7 linked regions of the Homo sapiens genome follow. Changing the gene in region 1 together with any one later gene gives a genetic interaction. Each region holds a gene or a part of one and is shown in the gene's direction. Other genes may lie near its edges. The genes, in order: INTS9, SAP30, RUVBL1, ACTL6A, CHD4, MED23 and RTF1.

Region 1 (4,100 bases):
TTTGGCTCAAGGCAGGCAGCTCCCTCGAGTTGGGGGAATGTTCCCTGCCAAGCAGGCTGCAGCAGCCCTCAGGAGACAGGCTGAGCAGAGGGCGAGGACTCTTCCCGGTCTGAGGGGCTGGGGCTGCTGGGGAGCATCCCAGTCTCAGTCTACAGACCATTCACGGGCCTGGAGGCGGGGCCGTGCGCTTGTCTTCCGGGTGCATCTCACACCTGGGCGTTAACTCAGAGCTGATTCTAGGTTCCCGGGTCTGTACCAGGCCTCTCCACTGTGAAGTCAGTTTTTCCCATTGTATTAAATCAGTACCTTGTGGGGGACTCTTTGAAACTATATACATATTCTGTTCTCCCTCAAAATGGTATCTGATATTTTTAGCATTTGTTGATGATTTTCATCTGAATAAGTGATGAACTGTAATGGTTGCCAAACGGTGGTTTTGGTTTTTATTTCATCGTTTGTTTCTTGGCATTTCGTTGTAAAAAGAGCTTTCTTTTCTCCCCCACATATGTATTTCTCCCTCATTTACCTCATCTGCCTCTGCTGAAGCTTGGAGCCCACCCACAGGGTCCATCCCAGCCTGCCCCTCCTTCCACGGGGCCCCTTTGACCTCCGTCCCCCACGTGTGCTTCCTGGCTCCCTCCTGACCCCCTGACTGTCTGTGGGCCCTCAGCGCCCCAGTTGCTGTCTGGCTTGGCAGCTCCTGTGTAGTCTGCATTGTAAGATTTCTTTCTTGTACTTTCCCTAGAACCAGACTTCTCCTACCTGGAAGCCCTGGCTCCTTACCAGCCGCTGGCCATGAAATGCATCTACTGCCCCATCGACACCCGGCTGAACTTCATCCAGGTGTCAAAGCTGCTTAAAGAAGTGCAGGTAATGAAGGACACTGCTTGTGCCTTCACGTAGTCATGTCACCTTGGTGTGGCTCATGCTTGTGTGGGGTGAGGGGAGAGAGATCTAGCTGTGTTTGATTCTTGTCTTCAGTTCTCACGCATCTGCAGAATGCTGGGACACATGCCAGCCCCCCTCCACACTGAAAAGGAGTGGTCTTTACACCCTGACCGCAGTTTCCATTCTAAAGAAATCAGATGTGGAAGGGAAAGAAAACCATCTGTGTCCGCTTAAAAGCAAACCCTCTCACCCCTGCCAAAAAAAAAAAAAGTCATTCTAGAAACATACTCACTAAGCTGAGACAGTTTAAATGAAACGCGTTACTGGGGCCGTGTCGCACGTGTAGGCTGGTACCACAAACAGTGCTGTCGGGTTTGGGTTTTGTGGCAGTTTTTGGTCATTTGTTTCACTTCACATTTTCTGCCCTGGAGAAAGGGAAGAAGTAGCTGGGGTGCAGTGTAGACCAGGAGGCGCGCGTAGCAGGAAGGCAGGGCCACGGAACCACTGTGCTGGCTCAGCCACTGCTCGCTGGGTTTCTGGCTCTTGAGAGTCGGGAGAGGAACTGGAATTGGCAAGGAGGACAGCTGACACCGGCGAGGAAGAGCTCTCCCTTTCCACTCCCTGGTGTTCCCAGGAGTGAGATGAGGGTGGAGGGGCCCAGCACAGCACCTTCAACCTCAGGATGAGAGAGGCCCTTTCACAAAACTCTAAGGCAGGGGAACAGGAAACAGAGAAAGCCGGAGAACCCCAGGAGGGCCCCAAGAGCGGATTCTGGTGATTATTAATGTGCTTGCCCAATGAAGAAAGAATACTGGCACTCTCTAGGTATGATGAGAGCAGACAGCAAACGTGGGGCCTGTCTACAGTGATTCGCTACCCCAATGTATGCTCATCCACGTTAGAAGCAGCAGTGAAAGGCGTGTTGCTTTTCATTATTAACTTCAAATCCCAGTCCCTAAACCAGCTCTTGACGCCCCTCTGTCAGGTGCTAATCCTGGAAACTGGAGGCCACCTGGTCTCCACTTTAGGTGAGGAAAACCTGGGAGAAGCCATCAGACTGCACCTGTGGCATGAGATGCTTTGAGACAGGTCAAGAGGAGGAGCAAAGGGCAGTTTGGAGGAGAAAAGTATTAGCCCTAAGGAACAAGTGCTTTTGGAAGCTCAGCCCGGTCAGCCTGGTGGAAAGCCGTCTTCAGCAGGGAATTCAGGGCTTGGTCCAAGCTCTTAAGTAGAAGCAGGGACAACACAGTGCCCCTGTGGGCTGCCAGCATTCCTTTTCATTTGGGTGATATTTGTGCAAAGTAAAAATTGGTTTACTAATCTTTTTTTCTCAAGATAACAAAAAGAGACATTTTGTTTAAAAAAAAAAACAAAAAAAAAAAACTCTGCCTCTGCTCCTTGGTTGCACATGGTGAGCACATGAGCTGAGGAGTGCCCACTGCCTAATACCAGCTGACCTGCAGATCCAGCGGAAACTCCAAACCCACAGCGCCAGCCCGGCACGAAAAGCCACAGCTCTTGGTAATCAGCCAAGAGCTTATAATAGCAGGCATGTGGGAATGTTAGAGAAAGACCGTGCCCCGAGGAAGCCCAGAGACCGCTGGGAGCAGACACATGGAAGTTACCGTGAAACTTATGTAAAGAGTAAGAAAGATAAATTAAGCTGAGGCAGTTTAGGGGTTTCCGAGATGTTTCTTCTGCCCCAGTGCCTTCACGTTCCCTCTCCTGTCTACGGTTCATTGGGCTTGAGAGGATGAAAGTTCACCTTGGCCTGGAAGTGGTGAGCCTGTAATGGCGGGGAGTGGATCGGGGTCAGGAATGGGCCTTCCACAGGGGCCACTGTACTTCACACCACCTTTCTCAACTGTCCCATTGGTTCCTCAGCCCCTGCACGTGGTGTGTCCTGAGCAGTACACTCAGCCGCCCCCAGCCCAGTCCCACAGGATGGACCTCATGATCGACTGCCAGCCCCCCGCCATGTCCTATCGGCGGGCTGAGGTTCTCGCCCTGCCCTTCAAACGTCGGTACGAGAAGATCGAGATCATGCCAGAGGTGAGCTGTTCTCCTTCCTAGGGTTAAACTAGAGCTTTCCACAGAGGCTCTTGGAGATCGTGCAGGGGTGGCCTTCTTTTGGATTTATGTCAAGTATAAATGAACCAGGCTGCGCGCAGTAGCTCACGCCTATAATCCCAGCACTTTGGGCGGCCAAGGTGGGCGGATCACTTGAGGTCAGGAGTTCGAGACCAGCCTGGCCAACCCAGCCCAGCCAATATGGCAAAACCCCATCTCTACTAAAAATACAAAAAAAGTAGCCAGGTGTGGTGGCACGCATCTGTAATCCCAGCTACTCGTGAGGCTGAAGCCTGAGAATCGCTTGAACCAGGAGGTGGAGGTTGCAGTGAGCCGAGATCACACCACTGCACTCCAGCCTGGGCAACAGAGTGAGACTCCAAGTATGAATGAACAAAGAACATGGACCCTTAACCAAGTAACCGGGAAGAGGGGGGATTTTCAGGGCCTTCTTGTTTTTCAACTAATAAAATAACAGCTGTTAGTCAGGACTGCTCCTTACCTAGCATTCAGCAGCGTGAGCCCTGGGCCACATCATGGGTCAGAGCCCTGGGAAGTGGAGATGCTGACACCCGCTCTGTCCCTAAATACCATAGGATGGTGACTTTTCTCTTCCTTCCTGGACCTCAGTTATGAGTGAGTGTCAAGAGTTTGCTGAATTCAGAGGTAGATGGGGGAGATAACAGGAACCAAAAAATAAGGATTGTAAACTTGGTTATTTATATCCTCTTGAGCATACTTGCAGGTTTTGGTCTATCAAAGTCTAAGTATTTTATAGGTCTGTGAACTCTTAGCTTCAGTTTTAGCAGGGAAAGAGCCAAAGCATGCTGTCCATGTTGAACAGCTGTGGCATGCTGCGCTTGGGCCACTCCTCTGAGAGGGAGACAGAGAGGGACGCGGCCTCTCCTGAAAGACAGCGTTGAGGATGGTTGGAGGCTACCTCTGGCTTCCTTTCACCTCTTGAGGCAACTTGAATGTGTTTTCAACAGACAGGAAAAAGAAATATAAAAACTTATTGTTAAAACCAGTGTGCCCAAACTTCTTTTGGAGTCTGAGGTTCAGAAATGGCCTCCAGACCTTGGGTTGGAGGTCTTGGCTCCTGAATGTGACTCATTTCCATGAGCCTGGAGAGGCTGCTAGGG
Region 2 (4,679 bases), on another chromosome or scaffold:
TAATCATAAGCAGTGTGTAAAACTTTTCTGTTTCAGGCAAGGCATCTTTACATATGTGATTATCATAAAAACTTAATTCAGAGTGTTCGAAACAGAAGAAAGAGAAAAGGGAGTGATGATGATGGAGGTGATTCACCTGTTCAAGATATTGATACCCCAGAGGTAGATGGAAGTTTTTTATGCTTAATGTAAATCCTAAGTAGTGCATTCTGAAGCCTTTATAAAAAGATATGAACAATCTTTTAAGTGTTTAAAACATTTGAGAAATCTGAAAATGAAAGCAAAATTAAATATAGCCAGTTGACATGCATTTACACAGTTTGAATTGTTACATTTTAGATTGACAATTTTTGCAGCTCTGTTGTCACATAACTTACTCTTTTTTTGACCTCAGTTTATATTATTTATCCCCAAAAGATTAAATTCTTTAATAATTTATGTTGGATTATATAAATTTTTTAAATTTTTTTTGATTTTGGAAGTAAATTTTATTGTGCTGAAGTTAAAATGTTTGTTATTATACATATCAATGATAAATTTTCAACAAATTGTATGAACTCATTTATACATGTTAATTTTTTCTAGGTTGATTTATACCAATTACAAGTAAATACACTTAGGAGATACAAAAGACACTTCAAGCTACCAACCAGACCAGGACTTAATAAAGCACAACTTGTTGAGGTATATATGAGTTTTAAACTATTTGAACTATCTGCACAACCGAGAGGTTATTAAGTGCTAATGGAAGTTTTAATGTAGTGTATGTAACAGTACATTTTAATTAGAAAGAACAAAGTTAAAAAATCTGTTGTGGAAGAATCTAGTTGTGTAGAAATGTTTGTCTGCCACTTAGGAAATTCCTTTTTGTAATGACTGCTTAGTAGATTGTGTACAGCACCTTCTGATACTGGCTTTCAAAATGTGTTGATTGTTTTTTGAGACAGAATCTCACTCTGTCACCCAGGCTGGAGTGCAGTGGCATGATCTTGGCTCATTGAAACCTCTACCTACCAGGTTCAAGCAATTCTCCAGCCTCAGCCTCCCAAGTACCTGGGACTTCAGGTGTGCACCACCACACCAGGCTAATTTTTGTATAATATTTTTAGTAGAGATAGGGTTTCACCATGTTGGCCAGACTTGTTTCAAACTCCTGACTTCAAGTGATCTGCCCACCTCAGCCTACCAGAGTGCTGGGATTACCAGTGTGAGCCACCGTGCCTGGCCCTCAAAATGTTGAATGAGAGTTTTTTTAATCCTCACTTTAGAAATCTATTAATTTTAAAACTCCGTTTAACCAGTAAACATTTGAGCACCTAATTGAGGCATAATAAAATTAATTAACAAGCTTTAATGTCCTTATTAGAATTTATATTTTAAAGTGGTGGAATAGGCCTACAAATCAGACCCTAAACAGTATTTTTATAATTTGCTGACTTAACTATTTCAAAATTTGTCCTTGTTGATGTTTGTTTTATTAGAGACATCCATGTTTTTTTCACATCTAGAAGAGGCAAAAGCTTTTCTTTTACCCAAGCTTTTACTTGTAGTTTGCTTTGATAGAGGACTTCTAGTCAGTCACTGAGTTGTGAAAAGTTAACGGAGCATGCATATGTTTTCAGGATATAATAGAACCAAGAAATCTGTGCATCTTATTAAGATGTTTATAGATTTATATATATATATTTTAATCATATTTAAAATAAAAATTTTTACTTGCAGCTACTGAGGAGGATTGATTAAGCCTAGGAGTTTGAGTCACCATGGGCAACATAGCAACACTCCATCTCTAAAAAAAGAAAATTTGGCCTACTAGACAAAATAGAAGTGTAGAAATATAAATCAGTTTTCTCATATTCTTTGCATGGATTTAGTAGTTACCCAACATTTTCTAAAATGTGCCTATTGAATAAAATGAAATATGAATAGAAGTTACATTTATTTGGCAGAATGCTTTTTAACATTGTTAAAATCTAATATATTAACTATTTAGCTAAAATTTTTTATCCTTGGTTGGGCAACACAGATCTAATTAATTTTTCTTTAATTTTGATTTAAAAGATCAAGTTCTTTTGGGGTTGTACAATACATTAATGTAACATAAATATAGTTATTGCCCACCATGATGAAATATTTCAATAGGTACTAATGGAGTGAAGGCACCCCTGTTTTGGGACAAATGAGAACCAAAGAACTGATTATTTTAAATGTTATATTTAGGTATAAATTAAACCTGTAATTTTTGATAAACTGACCTTCTAAGAACAGTTATATTATTTCCAGAGCTATTTTCTTTTTTATACATAAGAGATAGCCATGAGTGTTATATTTTACTTAATCAGAAATGCAGATATTAGCAAGTTAAGGAATGTGCAGATGTAGTACATATATTTTAAGAGAGGGGTCCCCAACCCCAGGGCCATGGACTGGTACTGGTTGGTGGCCTGTTAGGAACGGGTCCGCAGAGCAGGAGGTGAGCACCAGCTAGCAAGCATTACTGCCTGAGCTCCGCCTCCTGTCAGATCAGCCACAGAATTAGATTCTCAGAGGAGTCCAAACCCTCTTGTGAAGTGCACATGTGAGGGATCTAGATTGTATGCTTGTTATAAGAATCTAATGCCTGATGATCTGAGGTGGAACAATTTCATACCAAAACCAACTCCGCCACCCTCAATCTGTGCAAAAATTGCCTTCCGTGAAATCTATCTCTGGTGCCAAAAAGGTTGGGGACCACTGTTTTAAGGGAATCCAGGGTTGTATGACTAAGTCTTAAGTCTCTTAATTATTGTGTGGATGAACTTTTTTCTTAAGAAATTTTATTTTCTGGAATCTAAATATGCATGTCAGCACCCCAGGTAAGTCTATTATTCTTCTATTAGTAATTGTAGTATGCATGTTATGTTAGCACAATGAAAAAGCAAGGAAGCAGGTAAACATCCTTCATTGAACATCCCTCTTTCTCCTCTCATTTCCATTCATAATTTTTATTCAGAAAAATTTTCAAGGAACCTTAACCAAAGAATGCTACCAAGGTGTGAATGAATGAATATAATTTGCAGCAAACAATTTATATGTTATTGTTGGTTTCTCTACTAGCAAAAGTTTTCAACTTCATACTTCTTTTTCTATCAGTAGAGTCTAAACCATTGCAGGTTTAATGATGCATGTGATCTCTTACGTCTGTTTTATCTCATTTAAAGTTTAAAAGTAAAATCATTTATTCCCTATTCTAGATTCTAATTATAAAATTTATTATTTTTATTTTATTTATTTATCTTTTTTTGAGACAGAGTCTTGCTCTGTTGCCCAGGCTGAAGTCCAGTGGCATGATCTCAGCTCACTGCAACCTCCACCTTCTGGGTTCAAGCAATCCTCCTGTCTAAGCCTTCTGAGTAGCTAGGATTACAGGTGTACACCACCAGGCCTATCTAATTTTTGTATTTTTTTTGGTAGAGATGGGGTTTCGTCATGTTGCTCAGGCTGGTCTCAAACTCCTGGGCTCAAGTGATCCACCCACCTCTGCCTCCCAAAGTGCTGGGATTACAGGCATGAGCCACCACGCCTGGCCCAATTATAAAATTTAAAATAAATAAAAGGAAAATATATTTTCTAATCAATGTATATTAAATTGAGTGGGTCAAAGGGTCCTTTGAAATCACACTATCTCTTGTTCGTAACATTTTATTCTTGAATGCTTTCTGTCTTGTTGATATTTTGTTAAATATAATTTTTAAAGGAAATAGCCCTTATCACATAGCACTTTTTCTTTTGATGAAACCGTATTTTTTACGTAGTTTATGAAACCTGTTATATCTAAAATTTAATTTCCTTAATTTTTCTTTTCTTTGTAGATAGTTGGTTGCCACTTTAGGTCTATTCCAGTGAATGAAAAAGACACCTTAACATATTTCATCTACTCAGTGAAGAATGACAAGAACAAATCAGATCTCAAGGTTGATAGTGGTGTTCACTAGGAGACGTGGAATTGAGACTAATAACTTGGATGTTAACACTGTTTACTGTTTTTTCACATGTAGAAATGTTCTTTGTGTATTTTTTCTACAGAGGATTTTCTCTGATTTTATTTTCTTTGTTTCTGACTCTAATAATTAGTTGGAAACTCATATAAAATGAGCTTTCCTAAATTAAATCTATTTTAAATAAAGGTTATTACTATTATAGTTGCTTCAGTGTATTTATTTTGTGAAACTTGATTTTTCTTTTAAACTGACTAAGAGATCAGTATTGAGATTTTAATGTAAAGTCCTTCATTTTGTAATCCTTTTTTTTTTTTTTTTTTAAACTTCCAAGAAATTAACAGGGTAAGGAGAAGTAACAAATGTAGCACATTTGCATTCTCTGGGACAATCTGACTTGGAAGTGAAGATAATCTAAATAGCATTATTTTTTAAAGTGCTTTATAGGGCTAGCAAATTTGAAAAATAAACTTCTCTTGGAATGCAACTTCTTTTTTATTTCCTTTTTTTTGTTATTATTACTTGATGAAGTACTAGGAAGAACAAATGGTTTAATTTATATACCCACCTCCTTCCAAAGAAGACTTAATGTGCCAGCAAAGATAAACACAATGCTGAAAGTTGAAATAAGAGTATAAAATTAAATAGCTGTTTTTCAAAATTTTGTCTTCGAGAAAAGATATTTATGTGGCATGAATATAG
Region 3 (4,100 bases), on another chromosome or scaffold:
CTTTGAGCTGGTACTGTTGTCTGCTTCTCATACAGATGGATACTTATGCCTTGGCTAGTAAAGTGCAGGAAAGGATGTTATCACTATATGACATTTCTAGGAAATAGTGAATAGTCACTATTAGGGAATAGTTTGTTTTCTGACTTGAAATTTGATCCGTGGGTGTTTTGTTCCTTGGAGCTTTGGTCAAGAGATTACTGAAGACTCATCTTGGACCAACAGGTCCCCTTGGTTGGTGAAATGGCCATCCCCAAACTGACCTCCTGGGAGCCCTTGACCTGAGAAGAGTGCTGGGCTGGGAGTCAGAAGTCAGGAACTGTGTTGCTCCATCACTGACCAGCTTGGTTAATTTGTCACTTTGGGTCTCTGGGTTTTCTGTGGTTTGGGGTTCGGTTTTGAGTTCCCTCCTACTTGGCAAGGCAGTTTTGAGGACCAGACAGGAAACATTTGCTGCCTTTAGCTATTCAGCATTTAGTGAGCCCTTCTGTGTCTCAGGGCCTGGTAACCAACAGGTGATCACTAAATGCTGAATAAATGACCAAACACCAGCCTCTTCCTCTTGCTGACTGCACTGTTAGGAGCCCGCAGGAGGATGCAGGTGAGTGGTGAACCTGTTATGGAGTCAGCCATGATCAGCTCCAAGTTAAGTAAGGACTAGGCTGATGCAAGCCTGTGGTCAAATCTAGTGAGAGGAGGCACAGCAATATAATCATGGTATATTTATACTTGCTCTTTATACTTACTCTTATAGTCCATGTGTCCCCAAAGGCACAGGAACATTTGGAGGAAGTCCTGAGTCCGGTTAGGGTCAGATGCGCCCTAGAGGGCATTTGACGTGAACTTTAATGACTGGGAACTTCTAGGAAGGAGAATGGCATTCCTGGCAGATGGAATAGACTCAAAAGCATTGAGTCATAAAAAAGCTTGGGGGTGTCCAGGGCAGGGCTGGTAGTCTTGTGTGGCTAATCAAGGAACAAGGGGTTGGAAAAAGATAGGGCTGGAAAAGGAGGCTGGGCAGGCCCCACGGAGCTTATACTTGCCATGAAAGGATTTTGTTTGATTCTTACAGGTTAGGGGAACCTCTAAAAATTCCTCTGTGTTTAGAAGCTCCTCAGGCTTTGAGGAGGGGTCTCCATACCTCAGGATCCCATGTTGAGTTGATGAGTGGGATGCAGGGGGATGAGGCTTCTGTAGTCACCTTAGAAAGCAGCACTGACTCTAAGTCTTCTCTTATGCAGGGGGGACAAGATATCCTGTCCATGATGGGCCAGCTAATGAAGCCAAAGAAGACAGAAATCACAGGTAGGAGAACCAGTGTGCCCTGTGAGCAAGGGGCAGGGCGGAGGGCCCCACATTCTGAGATGCTCTTGCGGCTCTGTGAGCACAGTCGCCCTGAGGAAATGCCTCAGAACAGTTCTTTCTTCCTCATAGCTTAGAGCTTGACTCTAGCCTAAGTTTCTGGCGGCATTTAGGCAGCCATATAGCACACTGTGTGCTATCTGCCCCACTGCAGTCACAGTTTCTGGCCCCTATGAGGCCCCAGAAATAGGGATTTGTGTCGCCCAGCTCTGCTGGAGCACAGGCTCTGGAGCCTTGGGGCTGTCAGCCCCCTCCCTAGTAGAGCACAGGGCAGCTCCACAGACCAGCTCCACATACTGCCCTGCCCAGTTTGTGGGCACTTCCCAGAGCTCCACAGGGGACACTGCTGCTGCTCCCCTGTGAACCTTTATTTAACCTGCTGCTCTTCCCAGCTTTCCTGTTGCTGTTTTTTTTCTAATTCCACCTACAGTTTCGTCACCTTAAGATGTTAGTTAAACATTAAAGCAAATATTGTCTTTAAAGTTTAAGCCAGGGCAGCAATCTGAGACCTTTCTGTTCGAGTTGTCAGAAGCAGTTTCTTTCTTTTCACACGGTTTTCGGTGTGCATCCTCTTTGGACAATCCCCGCCTCTTGCCTTTGGTGGAAGACGCTGCCTCAGATCTTCCAGTTTTCTATTTGTGAGCTGCTCCCTCCTGATGATAACACAGGAGCTGGTTTGGAAAATGAGCACTGAGACCTTAGCTGGGTTATGTAACTTTTGAGAGACTCATCCCTCTAGGAGCTCTGAGATTGGGCCTTTCTTCAGAGCCTTTCATTCCTCAAAGGTTTCTGCTCAGGATTCTAAAAGCACCCACTTCCTTAGTCCAGGCACTTGATTGAAAGTTAATTAACCTAAGCATTGTTGTATGGGACCAAAAGAAAGGGTCATTTACTGAGTATAGAACAGGTAAATTTGCATGTGAAAACTCATTTCACCCAGGGCTCCCAAACTCCAATGTCTCCCAGATCAGACAGAGCTAGATTGGGTATGTGGGAAGTGATAAGGCATGGTAGGGAGTGTGACAGCAGTGAGCGTGTGCTGTGAAGGGATTCCCATGCAGAACACCTGTGCAACCTTTTTACATTTAACCAAACTCATCTTTTGGGGGAGGCTGCCAATTTTGTGACCTTTTAGGTGTGATTATCACTGTGTTCAGATGACGACACTGAAACCTGGAGTGGGGACACACCCTGTCTGGGATCACATAGCTAGTAGGAAAACTAGGCTCCTAGCATGGGTTTGGATTGAATTCAGGTGGAGGAGAAAAGGCGATAGTCTCCCCCAGCCCTGTGCTGACCTTGCCTGCCCATCCTTGCATCTCCTAGACAAACTTCGAGGGGAGATTAATAAGGTGGTGAACAAGTACATCGACCAGGGCATTGCTGAGCTGGTCCCGGGTGTGCTGTTTGTTGATGAGGTCCACATGCTGGACATTGAGTGCTTCACCTACCTGCACCGCGCCCTGGAGTCTTCTATCGCTCCCATCGTCATCTTTGCATCCAACCGAGGCAACTGTGTCATCAGGTAGGATGGCTGCCTGCCAGCCACAAGGCTTTTTTAACTTCCATCTGGGCTCATTTGTTCCTCAGGATCTCTCCAAACCCCATGAGGTGGGACAGGGATGAGGGGAGGTCATGTTGTTTTTGAGGGAAAATGTGCCAAGTGGCTTGCCTCTGGCCTCATTTCCCTAGTCACCAAAGGCAGCAGCTGTCCTGTCACTCATGAGGAGGGTCTCCCACGTGATCTTTTGGGTGTGATACTACAATTTGGTCGTTCAATTGGAGTGTACAAAGGTGAGATCAGACAGGGCTAGCCTTTGATGACATTATACACATGAACGTCTTCAGTCTTCATCTGCGCTCTGAGAGGTAGGCATTATTGGCGTCATTTTTCAAATAAGGAAACTGGAATCATAACTTGTCCCTCATCGTAAAGACAGGATAAGAACCCAGCTCCTTCTGATAACAAAACCAGCATTTTCTTTCTTTTTTTTTTTGGGGACAGAGTCTCACTGTGTCGCCCAGGCTGGAGTGCAGTGGCGCGATCTCGGCTCACTGCAAGCTCCACCTCCCGGGTTCACACCATTCTCCTGCCTCAGCCTCCCGAGTAGCTGGGACTACAGTTGCCCACCACCACGCCTGGCTAATTTTTTTGTATTTTTAGTAGAGACAGGGTTTCACCGTGTTAGCCAAGATGGTCTTGATCTCCTGACCTCGTGATCTGCCCGCCTCAGCCTCCCAAAGTGCTGGGATTACAGGCATGAACCACCACGCCCGGCCCCAGCATTTTCTTTCTATCCCAGACCTCTGAACCACACTGGTGTCTTTCCATCCTCCCGCTCCACTCTTTCCCATCCCTTTGGCCTGCCTTTGGGAAGGGCAGATGTTGACCCCTGGAAGACAAGTGTTCATACGGTGCTCATCCTGCCAAGATTGGCCCAAAGCTGGGCCAGGAACTTTCCTGCGGTTGCTTTTTCTCCTAAGCACTCTCCACGCTCGTGGTCCTGGAGAACACCCCATCTTCCCATCTCTCAAGCCCAGTGTCAGTATTCCCAGTACCTGGTAGTTTTATTGCTCTTTTGGTTTTCTGTGATCTTGTTTAAACATTAGTGCCTGGTCTCTGCAGTGCTGGGGGCACAAAGGTGGGTGATGAGGGGCCTGTTTTCAAGCCTGCAATAGAGTAGTGTGGGGACAAAGTCCCTGAGGCTGCATGCTCAGGGCAGTGGAGGCAGTGGGAGTTA
Region 4 (4,100 bases), on another chromosome or scaffold:
GTCATAATTTAGAGAAGTCAGATGAGATTAAAAATGTTAAGTATCCATGAATTTGCCTAGTAGAAGGTCATTAGTGGCTGGGGGCGGTGGCTCACGCCTGTAATCCCAGCACTTTGGAGGCTGAGGTGGGTGGATCACCTGAGGTCAGGAGTTCGAGACCAGCCTGGCCAACATGGTGAAACCCTGTCTCTACTAAAAATGCAAAAATTAGTTGGGTACGGTGGCGGGCACCTGTAATCCCAGCTACTCGGGAGCCTGAGGGAGGAGAATTGCTTGACCCCAGGAGGCGGAGGTTGCAGTGAGCTGAGATTGTGCCATTGCACTCCAGTGTGGGGGACAGAACGAGACTCCATCTCAAAAAAAAGAAAAAAGAAGGTCATTAGTGACTTATGTCAGTAGTTTTAATGGAATGTTTAGGTGGAAGCCAAATTGAAGACAGATGCTCTTCTTTGAATTTTTAACATGTCTTTTAGTCTTTTTCCAAATAGATTGTAAGTTTTTTTGAGTGTCGGGTCTAGACCATACAATTCTTTCTTTTTTTTTTTTTTTTATAAATCCAGCAGTAGTATCATCAGAAGGCCATACAATTCTTCTGTACTTCCTATTATCATTCTGATCACATTCTGGGCCTCTAATAAGTATTTATTGAATTGAATAACATTTACTTCATATTTTAGGTCTGTTAGATTAATTACATTTGGGACAGGTCTGGGGGCTGGAGGGACCAAAAAGAAGTTCTATATATCTAGAAGGCAAAGGTAATCTCTATATAAAGTAATGTGGTATGAAGTTGATCTGTAAAATCAGTAGGTTCTGTATACTAAAGTATTAATTGTTAAGTCATAGAAACAATTTCTCAAAAGATGCTATATTCATCTTCAACTATGCATTATTTCCAAGTTACTAATCTTATATTCTAGTTGAAGACTGGGATAGTTTCCAAGCTATTTTGGATCATACCTACAAAATGCATGTCAAATCAGAAGCCAGTCTCCATCCTGTTCTCATGTCAGAGGCACCGGTGAGATAAAGATTTTCTTTTTCACGTTTCTCTAGTTGTTTTTTTTTTTTCTTTTTTTTTTCCTTTAGTTTTCTACTCATTTGATGAACATTTTTCTTTAAAGAGGCATAGAAATTCATATTTTGAATTTGAAAATTAGGGAAAAGGATTAATTTTTTAACACTATTATAACTTTTATTTTACTATTCCAATAAATAAAATATCCAGAGAACAACAAAACACCCTAATGGATTCTTGTGGTTATTTATGTATTTCTAGGGATTTGTTTAACATTTTATTTCCTAGGACTGCTTCCCATTTTGAATTATGAATCATTTCTTGTGCCCCAAGGGCAGCGTATATCTACTTTTATTCAAGTTTCCAAGAAAGAATTGAGATGTTGAACAAGGGCTGGAAATTTCTGGACCAAAGTCTCTTGTGAAATACATTTGGTACATAGACAAAAAGGTCCCAGAAAGCAAGCATAATGGTCATAAATTATCAGTATCTTATTGTTACTAACTTACAGTATTCTTTTATGAATACCAACTATAAGTGGGAGAATTTGGTGGTCTAAAATTCATACTTAGGATTTGGATTACCATATTTACTCTTTAGATTTAATAATATGTTTATAAGAATCCTGGTTTCCTCATATGTGGAAAAGTCAGGAGCAATTTTATTATTAAAGAATTTTAATTCTTCTCTGATAGATTTATTAAATTTAATCTACATCTAAAGAAATAAATATTATAGAGGTTTTTTTATTTTTATGAGATATTATGAAAGATGATTTCCCATGGTATTTTATTCTGTTCTTAATGTTTTATATCTTTGTTAATATAGTGCTAGATTTTATCTGGAGATAAATCAACTTTTTAATTCTTAATAACTTGCATTTCTTTTTCCCCTCTTCTCAAGTGGAATACTAGAGCAAAGAGAGAGAAACTGACAGAGTTAATGTTTGAACACTACAACATCCCTGCCTTCTTCCTTTGCAAAACTGCAGTTTTGACAGCGTATCCTTGAAAGAGTAATACCTTTCCTCTTGAAGTATGTACGATACTAATGAATATGATAACTCTGGGAGAAGACATACGCCAATTATTGCTTGTTCCGAAGTTGTTTTTTTCCCTTTTCTCTTGCTTTTTAGCTATTCATCTTTTAGTATTTCTTGTTAGAACTGATGATACACCAGAAGGTATGAGGGAAATAAAATAACACTCAAATTCTGAGTGTTAAGACGTTTTTGTTTTTGTTTTTAAGAAGGGGCATGTGGATAGAAGGCAATGTTTTAACCAGTTGGCTTAGGTGAATTGAAAGATTGCCATTTTAAAATCTCCTTCCCTTCCAATATCATAGAAAACTGGAAATTGGCTGTAAATTCATTCTCCTTCAAATTTAGTCAGTCATCAAATCCTGCCTGTTCTTCCCTGCTATTTGCTTCTCTCTGTCCTACTGCCACAGCATTAGGTGGAAGCTATTTCCAGGATTACTGAAGCACGTCCTCTTGTCTGCCCATTCTTTACGCTGTTGCTCTAATAATCTTTCTATTTTTATTTATTTATTTATTTGGTAGAGATGGAGTTTCGCCATGTTGCCCAGGCTGCTCTCGAACTCCTGGACTCAAGCGATATGCTTGCCTCAGTCTCCCAAAGTGCTGGGATTACAGGCATGAGCCACCGTGCCCAGCCTCTAATAATCTTTCTAAAGTGCTAGTCTGCTTTAAGCCAGAATCGTCTTCTACATTTCTTCCTTTATTTTACTTTCAGACCGTGCTGAGGTACTTGCAGTTCTCTGACCTCGCTGTGTTCTCTTGCTTCTTGGTCTTCCCACATGCTCCTACTCTTGCCCATATTCCCTTCCCCAGATTTTACTATTGAATATCTCAGGAATAGGTTTCCCTTTTACATCACCATCTTCCCTGGGACATCCTGAGCTTTTCTTTTTACAGCTTTATTCATCATCTACTTCACTAAACAGGATAACCTTCAGGGAAAAGGCAGTTTTGGTGCACCATTGTGTGTCTACTGTGTTAAAGGAATTTTAGTGCCAGGTGAGCAGCCTCCCTCCTTCCTCCCTCCCTCCTTATTAAGCACCAGACTTAGTAGACACCTAATAGATGCTCAGTAAATATTTGATGAATGAGTGAATGTCCCTACTCCTAAACATCAGTTTAGTATATTCAGGTAGTATAGGCCATCTGCAGCACAGAACTGTGGAAAATGGGATCTGCCAATATTTACCAACTGTGGAATTCACCTGGAATAGTTTTCCCGCTCATTGAGTTGGAGGAGATAGGAACTGCCATATGGCTGCCAAACTGCTGAAACAGCTCTTTTTCAATGCTATGTGAGAATGGTTATAGTCCCTAGCTCAATTATCACAACCTCCCACTGTTCTTACCAAGTTTCTGTATATTTTGTTAAATAAATGCATCTCAGTTTGTTGTAAGCTCTTTGATCAGTCTCCAGAGACTTTTAGTGATTGTGTTAATTTTGACCAGCTTAATAGTAGCTGTTCCTAGGATAAAGGTTTCCCTGAGTGCCTGATACCTCCATTCTGGAATTCCTGCCTCTTACTATTTGTTTTTAAGCCAGAAATATTATTTTATACCAATTTTTATCCCTAGATTCACTGTAATACATTTTTAACTATAAGGTACATGTTTAAGAAATAGTTTCTGAAACATTATAAGAGCCTGCCCTTTACAATAAACATTATTTTAGCGGCCTTGATACTTTCTTTTCCTTAATGTTTTAAACTAGATTTGCTAATGGTCGTTCTACTGGGCTGATTTTGGACAGTGGAGCCACTCATACCACTGCAATTCCAGTCCACGATGGCTATGTCCTTCAACAAGGTAAATGTATTTAACCAGGATACACTGAGATGATTTTAGATGCCATGAGGATGCACATAATGAAATAAAATGATGAGTAGCACTATTAAAGCATATCAGTTTCTGAATAAGATTTTTTTTAAGTATGTTAAAAATCTTTAGTATATAATGTATATTTAAAACTGATGCATGGCTTTATTTATGTGTTGAAGGATAGTTCAGTTCATTCTACCTGAAAAAGTTATTCACATAAATACA
Region 5 (4,100 bases), on another chromosome or scaffold:
TCCCCATCTTTGGTCTTGTGGTATATATTTGGATATATCCTGATTTTAGGTCCCAATGCTCGGAGGAAGCCCAAGGGCAGCCCTCGTGTACCTGATGCCAAGAAGCCTAAACCCAAGAAAGTAGCTCCCCTGAAAATCAAGCTGGGAGGTTTTGGTTCCAAGCGTAAGAGATCCTCGGTGAGAGCCCAGCCCATCGCTTTAGGGAGGGTGCCATGTCTAATAGAAAGGATGTGACCTTCTATCAGAACCTGTCCTTCATAGTAGGCACGTAAGAATGTGGGGCGTTTCCCACAGAACAAGATGAGACTAGGCTCCCTGTATAACGGTGCTTGCTGGGATTCTGGTGTCCCCAGTGAGAGAGTACTCCCCTCTCTGCCACTCTGTCCTTCCCCTTGGCTTGAACGTCTAACCTTATTCTTTTTCATCCTGCCAGAGTGAGGATGATGACTTAGATGTGGAATCTGACTTCGATGATGCCAGTATCAATAGCTATTCTGTTTCTGATGGTTCCACCAGCCGTAGTAGCCGCAGCCGCAAGAAACTCCGAACCACTAAAAAGAAAAAGAAAGGTGTGTTTCTCTTCTGTATATTTGTGATGGGATGAGGTGGGAGTGATTGGGGAAGAATCTCCCTAAGGAGATAGGGGTCGGGGGGTGGGGGGAGGTAGTTTTTTTCCAATAACTGGGCTTTCCCTCTTCCTTGCCCAGGCGAGGAGGAGGTGACTGCTGTGGATGGTTATGAGACAGACCACCAGGACTATTGCGAGGTGTGCCAGCAAGGCGGTGAGATCATCCTGTGTGATACCTGTCCCCGTGCTTACCACATGGTCTGCCTGGATCCCGACATGGAGAAGGCTCCCGAGGGCAAGTGGAGCTGCCCACACTGCGTGAGTGTCTGGCCATTGTGGCCCCTTGGAACCCATGAGAAGAAGGGTGGGACAGTAAAGCTCTTCGGGGCCTGGATGGAAATGGAAATGCTGGTGCTGCGGGTTGTGAGCTTTGGGAAGCATTCAAAGGAATGATGGGCACTGGCTTCAGACTGCGGTGGGCGGGTGGGGGTAATAATCTGAATCTGTGGTCCTTTACTGCAGGAGAAGGAAGGCATCCAGTGGGAAGCTAAAGAGGACAATTCGGAGGGTGAGGAGATCCTGGAAGAGGTTGGGGGAGACCTCGAAGAGGAGGATGACCACCATATGGAATTCTGTCGGGTCTGCAAGGATGGTGGGGAACTGCTCTGCTGTGATACCTGTCCTTCTTCCTACCACATCCACTGCCTGAATCCCCCACTTCCAGAGATCCCCAACGGTGAATGGCTCTGTCCCCGTTGTACGGTGAGTGACTGATCTCAGCCGGGGCAAAAAATGGGAAAGTGTAGTCTTTTCTATGTAGGCTATTGTGAGGCTGGGGTGCAGGAGAGGAACTATGAGCTTTTCAGCCCTGAGAAAGGTATTCTCCTTCATCCTATAGTGTTGGGATACTTTTGTCCTGGGAAAATATAGGACTAACTTCAAACTGAGGAGTTGATGTTTTGCCAGCTCTCTTAAGAGGAGATGAAGCAATGTTCTTCTAGCTGAGAACATTTGTCCCTGTGTTGACACCCTGCCTCAGGGTCTTGGTAGCTTACAATGTTTTCAATTTTTTTGTTAAAAAAATTTTTTTTTTTGGAGACAGGGTCTCATTCTGTCATCCGGGCTAGAGTGCAGTGGTGCAGTCATAGCTCATTGCAGCCTCCAACTCTTGGGCTCAAGTGATCCTCCTATCTCAACCTCTTGCTGAGTAGCTAGGAGTACTGGTGCATGCCACCACATCCAGCTAATTAAAAAAAAAAAATCTCTGTTGAGACAGGGTCTCACTATGTTGCCCAGGCTGGTCTTGAATTCCTGGTCTGAAACCATTCTGCTCCCTTGTCCTCATTAAGTGCTGGCATTACAGGTGTTTACCACCATGCCAGCCAGTTTAGAATGTTTAATAGGGCCACTTACTGCTTTAGATTGCTTAAGGGAGGAATTCTGTGCTCTAAGTCTGTTGATTTCCTGATTGTTCTGGCTTATTGTTAAAGTCTAACTACTGGCTCTGTTAAGCAGATAGGAGTGATGGTGGCACGCAAATCCTGGACGATGTCCAGAAATGGAGAGGGAATTCTATTACAGGTTGAGCACCCTAATCCAAAAATGTGAAATCCAAAATACTTCTGGTCCCAAGCATTTCACATGAGGGGTCCTCAACCTGTATTTTCTCCCTGGAGGAGTCCTGGGATTAGATTTTATTTGAAATGAGATCTTTTTTTATTTTTTTGAGATGGAGTCTTGCTCTGTCCCCCAGGCTGGAGTGCAGTGGGGCAATCTTGGCTCACTGCAAGCTCTGCCTCCCAGGTTCAAGTGATTCTCCTGCCTCAGACTCCCAAGTAGCTGGGACTACAGGCGCATGCCACCACGCCCAGCTAATTTTTGTATTTTTAGTAGAGACGGGGTTTCACCATGTTAGCTAGGATGGTCTCGATCTCTTGACCTCGTGATCTGCCCGCCTCGGCCTCCCAAGGTGCTGGGATTTCAGGCATGAGCCACTGCTCCAGGTCTGAAATGAGATCTGAATCGTCCTTTGATGAAGTTGAGACTGTGGGCTGTCCCTTCTCCTCCCATGGTTATGATTTGAGATTAAGTTGTCTCTTTTTCTCTCAGTGTCCAGCTCTGAAGGGCAAAGTGCAGAAGATCCTAATCTGGAAGTGGGGTCAGCCACCATCTCCCACACCAGTGCCTCGGCCTCCAGATGCTGATCCCAACACGCCCTCCCCAAAGCCCTTGGAGGGGCGGCCAGAGCGGCAGTTCTTTGTGAAATGGCAAGGCATGTCTTACTGGCACTGCTCCTGGGTTTCTGAACTGCAGGTAAGTTTAGGATAGTCTGGAGATGTAGGGGCTACGATGAAGAGGATAGTGACAAAAGAGCCTTGTGGATAGAAGGAATGAACACAGCTTCTTGGTGGCTGATTTTCTCTTTCCGCTCAAAGCTGGAGCTGCACTGTCAGGTGATGTTCCGAAACTATCAGCGGAAGAATGATATGGATGAGCCACCTTCTGGGGACTTTGGTGGTGATGAAGAGAAAAGCCGAAAGCGAAAGAACAAGGACCCTAAATTTGCAGAGATGGAGGAACGCTTCTATCGCTATGGGATAAAACCCGAGTGGATGATGATCCACCGAATCCTCAACCACAGGTACCAGCTGAGCACACGGGAGACGGGCAGTCTCCGTGGGAGAGTCCTGCTAAAGAGATTGGGAAAATGGCTGTCACCAGTAACTTAGACTTGGAAGACACTGGTTTTTTTTGTTTGTTTTTTGTTTTTGAGACAGAGTCTCACTCTGTGCCCAGGCTGGAGTGCAGTGGCGTGATCTCGGCTCACTGCAACCTCTGCCTCCCAGATTCAAGTGATTATCCTGCCTCAGCCTCCTGAGAAGCTGGGACTACAGGCGCAAGCCACCATGCCCAGCTAATTTTTTGTATTTTTAGTAGAGACAGGGTTTTCATTCTGCTGGCCAGGCTGGTCTTGAACTCCTGACCTCAGGTGATCTGCCTGCCTTGGCCTCCCTAAGTGCTAGGATTAACAGGCGTGAGCCACCACGCTCAGCCTTATATATTTATTTTGAGACAAATTTTAGCTGTGTTGCCCAGGCTTGAGTGCAGTGTCGTGATCACTGCTCATAGCTGTCCCAAACTCCTGGGCTCAAGCAATCTGTCTGCTTCAGCTTCCCAAAGTGTTAGGATTACAGGCGTGAGCTACTGCGCCTGACACTTCATGTTATTATCTTTATTTATTTATTTTATTATTATTGTTTTTTTTTGAGACAGACTTGTCACCCAGGCTGGAGTGCAGTGGCGTGATCTTGGCTCACTGCAAGCTCTGCCTCCTGGGTTCACGCCATTTTCCTGCCTCAGCCTCCCGAGTAGCTGGGACTACAGGCCATCGCCACCATGCCTGGCTAATTTTTTTTTTTTTGTATTTTTAGTAGAGACGGGATTTCACTGTGTTAGCCAGGATGGTCTTGATCGCCTGACCTTGTGATCCGCTCACCTCCTCCTTCCAAAGTGCTGGGATTACAGGCGTGAG
Region 6 (4,100 bases), on another chromosome or scaffold:
CCAATTAGGCTGAAATTCTGTTAAAATTTTTATTTTAGAACTTGAGGATAAGCGGTAAAAAAATTATATTTAAAAATAGACTTTATGGAGATTTGTTTCAAAGAAAAAATCTTATTCTTACATACTATATTTTGTAGCACATGCATCTGTGTGCTACTGGAGAACGTAGGATCTTGTTACTTTAAAAAAATTAATGTTTGTAGTAAATAATAAATGATAAAATATATTTTTCTTTATTGAAAAGGTATATTTTAGTGAAAATATACTTGGATGTTTATTTCTTCATTTTGATTTTATATTTTCAGTTATTAGCACTCTATACTTAATGTCTATAACCATACCACTATTTTACTAGGTAAGAAATTCTACATAAATGAGCATGACTTATTTTCCTACACAAAGGAATTTATTTTCTGAAGCAAAAGAATGACTCATTAGAAAATAATTTTCATATTAATGTCTTATAACTATTAAAAGAAATAGGCTCATGAAACCTAGGTAAACCTTGGTTGCATCTGTGGCTATTATATGTCATATTTATAAGAACCCACCTGAAAGACCAACCATTTATACCTGTGGTTAATCAAATGGTTGCTTTTAATACATTTCAATCATGTCAAACTCATTTGTATTTGGTTTGCATTTGCCTCTTAATCTCTCTAAGCGTAGACAAATCACTTCTTGGCAGCTCATAATCAGATAAATTGACAATCAGATGAGATAGTCCAATTGTTATTGCTTTAACTGTGTGCACCGATGGCTGGCAAATCTCCTGGTCCCTTTCCAAACTGTGACTGGAGATTCAATGAGTTTCCCAACCCAGCTGCCCATGCTCTCCATGTTACTTGTGTGGAGCTCATGGCCTTGGCAGTTTCAGGCAAAGAAGTTGGGAATGCCCTTCTAAATGTTGTCCTAAAAAGGTATGTATTCTGGTTCATGCAGTAAGATTTGTTGTTTATTTGTAAATAGAATGGTATTCTATTTCAAACTTTTAAGACAAACCTGTTGCCGCAAGGCTGATGCACATTGGATGATGACTGTTTTCTGGTTCCAGATCTTGTCTTTGTGATATAGGAGTTATGGAATGAGCCCTGGACAGGATCCTAAGATCCGGGTTTGTTCCTACTTCTACTCATTAATAGCAGTTTGACATTTAATATAGGAATAATGTTAACTTGTCACTTAAAACAAGATTCTCTTCATCTTGTTTTCAAGATTTCAAGATTCTTTTAAAAATTAGCATGAAGTATGGGATAATGATTGGGGAGGAAGTATTTTTAAAAAGCCTTCTTGAGTTTTTATGCATATTACATTTTTATTCAATAAAAAATTCCCCATTGTTTTATTGAAATGGATTAGTTGTCGATCCTCTGAATTAGACATATTCTTTAAAAATAAGATCCGTTGTCAGCCATCTAAAATGTTTTTATAAATTCATACTTACATTCTTTTTTGCCGGTTGCAGTCAGCCTTTAGTGCCAAGAGAGAACATTACAGCATGGATGAATGCAATTGGTTTGATCATCACTGCCCTACCAGTGAGTTAATAATTGTGATTTGTACTTAGTGATGAAATACAGCCAGCTGTTCCATGTCAGCAAAAAGAAAAAGATGCATATAGGATGCCCTTGTACGGGACGTCATGCAAATTAATGAAGTATTTTATGTTTTTAAAGTTTTTTCATATTATTACTGCTTTAAAAATCTACAGTGACTAGTTTTTGCTTTTCTGTATTAGATCTAAATATATCTATGTGACTTACGGGTCTCTGCATTTTCTGGTACCACCTTACCTATCCAACTTTAGTTTTTACATAATAGCTTGATCTACTCTTGGCCACTTAACGTGTTGTATATCTACAGCCTTTGTTCCTTCAGATAGTGCTTAAGACATGTTTTAGGTACTTCTGAATGTGAGGGAATAAGACATTTTTCTTATTCCAGAAGCTTCTTCTTTCCATCACCTTCTCTAAAGCCTATTCATTCTTTGCTAGCTTAGAGCCTCCTTTCTCAGTGAATGAAGCCTTCCCTGACTTTTCCAGCTCACATGAAGACTCCTTTCTCTGACCTCCACACATATTTTTTTAAAGTTTATTATTTTTAAATAAGTAATAAAGCTATAGATTTATTGTTTGATAAATTAATTGATTTACTGCATAGTGTATATCAGGTACCTAAATGAGCTGGACAGATACATGTATGGAGCCCCTTAACTCACAGTTACTTCTCCCAGGTTGTTACTGACTTAATTTGACCAGTTACAAAGCCACCCAGCTGTATTGTGCAGAAGCTGGAAAAATAGAAAACTTTAAAGAATGAGAAAACACTATTACTTTAGACTTTGGGGTGGAATGCTGGATAAGTGATATTTTTCACTAGCTTTCCTCCGATTTTAAAGGAGCCATATTGGATTGTTCTTCATGATCGAATTGTGAGTGTCATCAGCAGCCCCAGCTTGACGTCTGAAACAGAGTGGGTTGGCTATCCATTCCGCCTCTTTGATTTCACTGCCTGTCATCAGTCCTACTCTGAGATGAGTTGTAGCTATACGTTAGCTCTTGCACATGCTGTGTGGCACCATTCTAGCATCGGACAACTTTCTCTCATTCCAAAGTAAGTATAATAATTTCTTAAAGAAATTTGACGTAGGCTGGGTGCGGTGGTTCATGCCTGTAATCCCAGCACTTTGGGAGGCCGAGGTGGGCAGATCACAAGGTCAGGCGATTGAGACCATCCTGGCCAACATTGTGAAACCCCATCTCTACTAAAAATACAAAAATTAGCTGGGCATGTGGTGTGTGCCTGTAACCCCAGCTACTCGGGAGGCTAAGGCAGGAGAATCACTTGAACCAGGGAGCTGGAAATTGCAGTGAACCAAGATCGCGCCACTGCACTCCAGCCTGGTGACAGAGTGAGACTCCATCTGAAAAAAAAAAAAAAATTGTATTTCATTTTGTTCTAATCTCATTAACAGATGAGGTATATACTTCATTCATTAGAACAACTTGCGGCTGGGCGCGGTGACTCATGCCTGTAATCCCAGCAATTTGGGAGGCCGAGATGGGTGGATCACAAGGTCAGGAGATTGAGACCATCCTGGCCAACATGGTGAAACCCCGTCTCTACTAAAAATAAAAGAATTAGCCAGGCGTGGTGGTGTGCACCTGTAATCCCAGCTAGTCAGCAGGAGAATCACTTGAACCCAGGAGGCGGAGGTTGCAGTGAGCCAAGATCACGCCACTGCACTCCAGCCCAGGCAACAGTGTGAGACTCCGTCTCAAAAAAATAAATAAATAAAAATAATCAAGTGAAAGTAATAGCCAGTGAGAGATGTGAGATTAATTAGAAATATTATTGTTACCAAATTAAAAGGAACTTTAAAAAATTATATTTTATTGTAATACTTTGTATATACTGTATGAACAAAATTCAAACAATTTAAATAATTTCAAGTCACAGGAGATTTTTATCTTCAAATTTTAGGTTTCTTACTGAAGTACTTCTTCCTATAGTGAAGACCGAATTCCAGTTGCTTTATGTATACCATCTTGTTGGACCATTTTTACAAAGATTTCAGCAAGAGAGAACTCGTTGTATGATAGAGGTAAAATATAATCTGGGTTTCCTGTGACATGATTAAATTCTGAAGTATCTATTTAAGTTTCTTTACCAGTGTTATTGAAACTGCAGGTCACAACCATTAGTAGTGAAACTAGTTTAACAGGATCCAAGAGCAATTTTAGAGGACTTAGTTTGCCAGTAATGAATTTAGGGTGGGATGTATTGAATTGGAGATGCAGAGGAAACGCCCATCATGAAGGTTGAGAAGAGGTTAAGGATGGAGAAGTACATTTGAGATCTTACAGTGCAGAGGAGCTAATTAAAATCATGAGAATGGATGAAGTCAGTCACTTCTAACAAAATGTCGCAAACAAGGAAAGGACCCAGGAGTAGAACCTTAAAGCAAGAGCTACCAAATGGAACTAAGAAAGTATAATCCAAAGGATCCCTAGGAGTGGAGTTATCCCAGACATCGAGAGATGGTGTCTAGAAAGGGGATTGTTTATCTCTTGATTTTAAGAGAAATTACTTAACTATGA
Region 7 (4,100 bases), on another chromosome or scaffold:
ACTTGCCTAGGGCCTTGACTATGTCCTTCAGCAGCTGGCTTCCAGCCCTCAGCATCCCCTTTTCTGCTGTGTAAAATGAGGGTACTACTGTATACCCTGCCAGCTTCACAGGAGGAGAGATAACATACAAAGATCAGACATTGTAAAAGTGAAAGCTTGTTGAAAATGGCACATTTAAAAGCAGTTTTCTTGCTGGGCGCAGTGGCTCATGCCTGTAATCCCAGCACTTTGGGAGGCGGAGGTGGGCGGATCACCTGAGGTCAGGAGTTCGAGACCAGCCTGGCCAACATGGTAGAACCCCGTCTCTACTAAAAATAGAAAAAAAATAGCTGGGCATGGTGGCGGGTTCCGATAACTCCAGCTACTGAGGAGGCTGAGGCAGGAAAATCGCGTGAACCTGGGAGGGGGAGGTTGCAGTGAGCCAAGATTGCACCGTTGTACTCCAGCCTAGGTGACAAGAGTGAGACTCCCACCTCAAAAAAAAAAAAAAAAAGCAGTTTTCTGTCCAAGTTAAGTCTTTTCCTGTTGTAGTCTAACTGGTCTCAGGATTTCTGAAATCTTAGGTCAGGAAGTGACCCGTTGCTTAAGCCCACCCTTTCTACACTCATACCACAGACACAAGCCTGCCCTCTTCTCTGTGCTTGTAGCCTTCAGGAGAGAAAGCTCTTTGTCTGTGGCCTCCCTCTGAGAGAAGGAATCAGAAAGGGGCCTTAGTAGGAAAATCTAATGAACTCAAATAAGAGCTTCGTACCGTTAGTGGCTGCTGCTGCTTGAAATCCACTTGCATTTATGCTCTTACCATTAGCTTTCCTCTTCACATTCCAGGGTCAAGGCAAAGATAAAGATTTGAATTCTAAGTCAGCCAGTGACCTCTCAGAAGATCTGTTCAAAGTACACGATTTTGATGTGAAGATTGACTTACAAGTTCCCAGCTCAGGTATGTGAGGGTGGGGCGGGTGGTGAGGGCTGAGAACCAGATGGATCCATGGTTTTCTGGGGCAACAAGGAAGCCCACTTTTAGGGAAGAAAGGGGAATGCTGGCTCATCAGCATCCACAGGCCAGGCCAAGACAGGCTGTGGGTATGGTGAGAGGGAACAGGGCCACAGTCAGGAGGCTGCCTGCAGGAGTGTAGCACAGGACTAAGAGGACTTTGTGGGACCTCAGCTGCCAACTTGCTCTTCTTTCCCACAGAGTCAAAGGCTTTAGCCATCACCTCCAAGGCTCCGCCAGCCAAGGATGGGGCTCCAAGGAGATCTCTGAACTTGGAAGACTACAAAAAACGACGAGGGCTTATTTGAGCACACCCAGCCTGCTGCTTCTGACCCTGCATGCCCCATCGCAGCGTCCCACCTTTCCTCCTTTCCTTTGATTTAGCCTCTTTGGGCTGGAGCAGCTGTTGAACTGGGAAGAGACTCTAAACTGCCAGTCATCTGTAATATAAACCATTTGCTGTATAGACCTCCTTTGTCTGCACACCATCTCCCACCAGCCTCCCCTCCCCCAGGGCCCCACCCAGTGTGGGCCTGGGCTCTCTTGGGCTTTATCCATGTCTTTAGATTTGTGTTTGCCTTTTGTTTTTTTAACCGCGCAGTTCATTGGCCACTCTGCACGCATTCAGTATTACCATGGAGCTGGGAATCTTGCTGGAGCCCCTGGGGCAATAGCAGCAGCACCAGGCGGTCTCCTCTACAGACTGCCTTGGCCCACCCATTGAACATTCGGCACGTGACCTTGTGGGGGGAGCGGGGATTGGGCACCTGCGATCCTCTTTCCTCTCTTCATCTTTCTCTTCTGCCCTTCTTTTTGGAAGAAGGGGTTTCAAAACCAGTTTAGTTTCCAAAAAGTGTACATTTGTGGGGGGGGGGGGTCTAATTTGAGAGCGAGAGTGTGTATGTGTGTGTGTGTAAGTGTGTGGATTTTTTTATCATTTTTTTAAAATGCAGTACTCTTTGTATCAGTCTGTCATGGGTCTATAGCTGTTTCAGATTTTTTTCAGCTGTACTTGAGCATCTGAAACTGCAAGAAAGAAACTCATTAAATGTGATTCTTCTTACTAAACAGGCCTGACTGCTGTAGCTGTGTAACTTCCCCATTCCCACCTACTCTTCCCATCCTTTCCCAACTTTGGAGAAAACTCCCCAGTTTAGCCCCCTGACCTGCAGGCTGTGTCCTGGCAGGTGTGGGAGGGAAGCCCATGGCCAGGTACCAGGGAGGGCAGTGAATGTCTTGCTCTTCCCATGGGTACAGCCCACAGCTTCTTGGCTGAACGTAGAACTTCTTTTTCTCACCCAGTATACCAGCCTCTTCCTGGTGATTCTGTTTTGCTGCTTTGGCAAGAACTACATTTTGTTTTTAAGAGAAATTTCTGAATATGAATGTGGAGAGCAAACACAAAAAGATTTAGGTTACGCCGGGTGCAGTAGCTCACGCCTGTAATCCCAGCACTTTGGGAGGCCTAGGCGGGTGGATCACCTGAGGTCAGGAGTTCAAGACCAATCTGACTAACACGGTGAAACCCCATCTCTACTAAAACTACAAAACTTAGCCGGGCATGGTGGTGCGTGCCTGTAATCCCAGCTACTCGGGGGGCTGAGACAGGAGAATCCCTTGAACCTGGGAGGCGGAGGTTGTGGTGAGCCAAGATCGTGCCACTGCACTCCAGTCTGGGTGACAGAGTGAGACTCCGCCTCAAAAAGATTTAGGTTGCAAATGTTTCAAGCATGTGCAGTTTTGTGTGTGTGTATACATATATATGGTCAGCATATATATTGTGCAGCTAGGGCGAAGCCAGCAGAGGTGTGTGTATGTCTTTATGAAATGTTTGAAAAGAGATAAACTGACTGCTTGATAATCACTCTCAGGTGTAAAGCTCCAAGTGTAAATAAAAGTGGCATTTAACAAATCTTTCAGAACAAAGTACAGCTGACTATATATACCAAGAGCTAAGCTAAAGGAACAGCTGAGAGCTCCGATCTCCACGAGAGACTAATCTAAAAGCTCTGCTTTGTACTTCCTCACCCTGCTTTCGTACAAGGAAGGGGGACGATGGGAAATCATGGACTTGTAAGTTGTATTTAAACATAAAAATGAACTTGGTAACTTCTGGGTTTAGTAGAGCCTCAGTGTCGCTTTAACTTAGTTTACTTTTTTTTTATTTTTAAAGCAGCAATGGATGGTTTTAAAGGAGTATTATGATTGTAAAATTGCTAAATATGACTGTAACACAGCTTTGTGGTAGCTGTGACACAGTTCACTTGGGCAAAGGAGTGGTGATGGACTCGTTAAAATCATATATACTTGAATAGTCCATTGACCGAAACTCTTTATAGACTATTGTGTAAATGTGGAATCACAGACTGTTAACATTGCCTGGACTTCAGCAGAGTCCTGGAGCTGCTGGGACCTCTCCTATCATGATGAACTTGGACTTTTTTTTTTGATTTCTGGTTTTAAAAAACATAAAATTATAGAATCCAGATAATTCGCTGGAGTCATTCTGATCCACCATGTAGATCTGTATTTAGTATCATTTGGATTTGGAGAAGTGTTGATTACATTATGGCTGTGTAATAAAATTTTTATTAAAACTGCATCACACTGTAGCCACTTTGCCACCACCTCCCCACATGTAGCCGCTGAAACCCCCACGAGATGCCAATGCACACAGCAGGGAGAAAAGCCAACCAAAGAAGACCGAAGGGTATCTTTCCACCCGAGTAGCCTCTGTAGTGATTGGGACCAAGACTAAGGACTTGTCTCCAATCTCAGCTGAGGCAGTGCCTCTGAACCAAGATCTTGGTCAGGCATTAAGACACTGGCTTTGTCCTACCAACTAGGATTTCTTGGTGGTTCACACTATTTCTTGTGCTGGGGAATTCCCTCATTGGGCCCCTCCTCCCTCCACAGTGTGGTTTCAGTGTTGAAGGGTGCAGCACCCAAGGTTGTTTTTATGCATTTTTTCAGTTCCTTCCAAGAAGCAAAAAGGCCAGTGTCCATCTGCCTAGTTCATAATGTTTATAGGTCTGTTTGTCTGTCTTGCTTCTGGCAGGTGTAGGGAAAGTCTACTGCCTGCCACTCCCTTCAAAAAGAATGTTTTTGC

What was found.
Region 2: changes in INTS9 (region 1) and SAP30 together harm fitness more than expected from each alone (negative genetic interaction), as found in Homo sapiens cells (one large-scale study listed by BioGRID).
Region 3: changes in INTS9 (region 1) and RUVBL1 together harm fitness less than expected from each alone (positive genetic interaction), as found in Homo sapiens cells (one large-scale study listed by BioGRID).
Region 4: changes in INTS9 (region 1) and ACTL6A together harm fitness less than expected from each alone (positive genetic interaction), as found in Homo sapiens cells (one large-scale study listed by BioGRID).
Region 5: changes in INTS9 (region 1) and CHD4 together harm fitness less than expected from each alone (positive genetic interaction), as found in Homo sapiens cells (one large-scale study listed by BioGRID).
Region 6: changes in INTS9 (region 1) and MED23 together harm fitness more than expected from each alone (negative genetic interaction), as found in Homo sapiens cells (one large-scale study listed by BioGRID).
Region 7: changes in INTS9 (region 1) and RTF1 together harm fitness less than expected from each alone (positive genetic interaction), as found in Homo sapiens cells (one large-scale study listed by BioGRID).

What each region holds. Positions count from the first base shown.
Region 1 is NC_000008.11:28,774,599-28,778,698, reverse strand, and holds part of INTS9 (integrator complex subunit 9), read left to right. Parts: intron 1-745; coding exon 746-870; intron 871-2,772; coding exon 2,773-2,940; intron 2,941-4,100. UniProt on the Homo sapiens protein: Component of the integrator complex, a multiprotein complex that terminates RNA polymerase II (Pol II) transcription in the promoter-proximal region of genes.
Region 2 is NC_000004.12:173,373,354-173,378,032, forward strand, and holds the end of SAP30 (histone deacetylase complex subunit SAP30), read left to right. Parts: intron 1-36; coding exon 37-162; intron 163-585; coding exon 586-684; intron 685-3,851; coding exon 3,852-3,974; 3' UTR 3,975-4,179; downstream 4,180-4,679. UniProt on the Homo sapiens protein: Involved in the functional recruitment of the Sin3-histone deacetylase complex (HDAC) to a specific subset of N-CoR corepressor complexes. Capable of transcription repression by N-CoR.
Region 3 is NC_000003.12:128,096,084-128,100,183, reverse strand, and holds part of RUVBL1 (ruvB-like 1), read left to right. Parts: intron 1-1,238; coding exon 1,239-1,302; intron 1,303-2,685; coding exon 2,686-2,884; intron 2,885-4,100. UniProt on the Homo sapiens protein: Possesses single-stranded DNA-stimulated ATPase and ATP-dependent DNA helicase (3' to 5') activity; hexamerization is thought to be critical for ATP hydrolysis and adjacent subunits in the ring-like structure contribute to the ATPase activity.
Region 4 is NC_000003.12:179,572,449-179,576,548, forward strand, and holds part of ACTL6A (actin-like protein 6A), read left to right. Parts: intron 1-920; coding exon 921-1,021; intron 1,022-1,921; coding exon 1,922-2,019; intron 2,020-3,768; coding exon 3,769-3,863; intron 3,864-4,100.
Region 5 is NC_000012.12:6,597,003-6,601,102, reverse strand, and holds part of CHD4 (chromodomain-helicase-DNA-binding protein 4), read left to right. Parts: intron 1-49; coding exon 50-177; intron 178-433; coding exon 434-569; intron 570-707; coding exon 708-886; intron 887-1,090; coding exon 1,091-1,330; intron 1,331-2,677; coding exon 2,678-2,881; intron 2,882-3,003; coding exon 3,004-3,209; intron 3,210-4,100. UniProt on the Homo sapiens protein: ATP-dependent chromatin-remodeling factor that binds and distorts nucleosomal DNA. Acts as a component of the histone deacetylase NuRD complex which participates in the remodeling of chromatin.
Region 6 is NC_000006.12:131,589,826-131,593,925, reverse strand, and holds part of MED23 (mediator of RNA polymerase II transcription subunit 23), read left to right. Parts: intron 1-754; coding exon 755-920; intron 921-1,465; coding exon 1,466-1,538; intron 1,539-2,398; coding exon 2,399-2,613; intron 2,614-3,483; coding exon 3,484-3,604; intron 3,605-4,100. UniProt on the Homo sapiens protein: Required for transcriptional activation subsequent to the assembly of the pre-initiation complex. Component of the Mediator complex, a coactivator involved in the regulated transcription of nearly all RNA polymerase II-dependent genes.
Region 7 is NC_000015.10:41,479,389-41,483,488, forward strand, and holds part of RTF1 (RNA polymerase-associated protein RTF1 homolog), read left to right. Parts: intron 1-38; exon of another isoform or gene 39-103; intron 104-825; coding exon 826-937; intron 938-1,192; coding exon 1,193-1,299; 3' UTR 1,300-4,100. UniProt on the Homo sapiens protein: Component of the PAF1 complex (PAF1C) which has multiple functions during transcription by RNA polymerase II and is implicated in regulation of development and maintenance of embryonic stem cell pluripotency.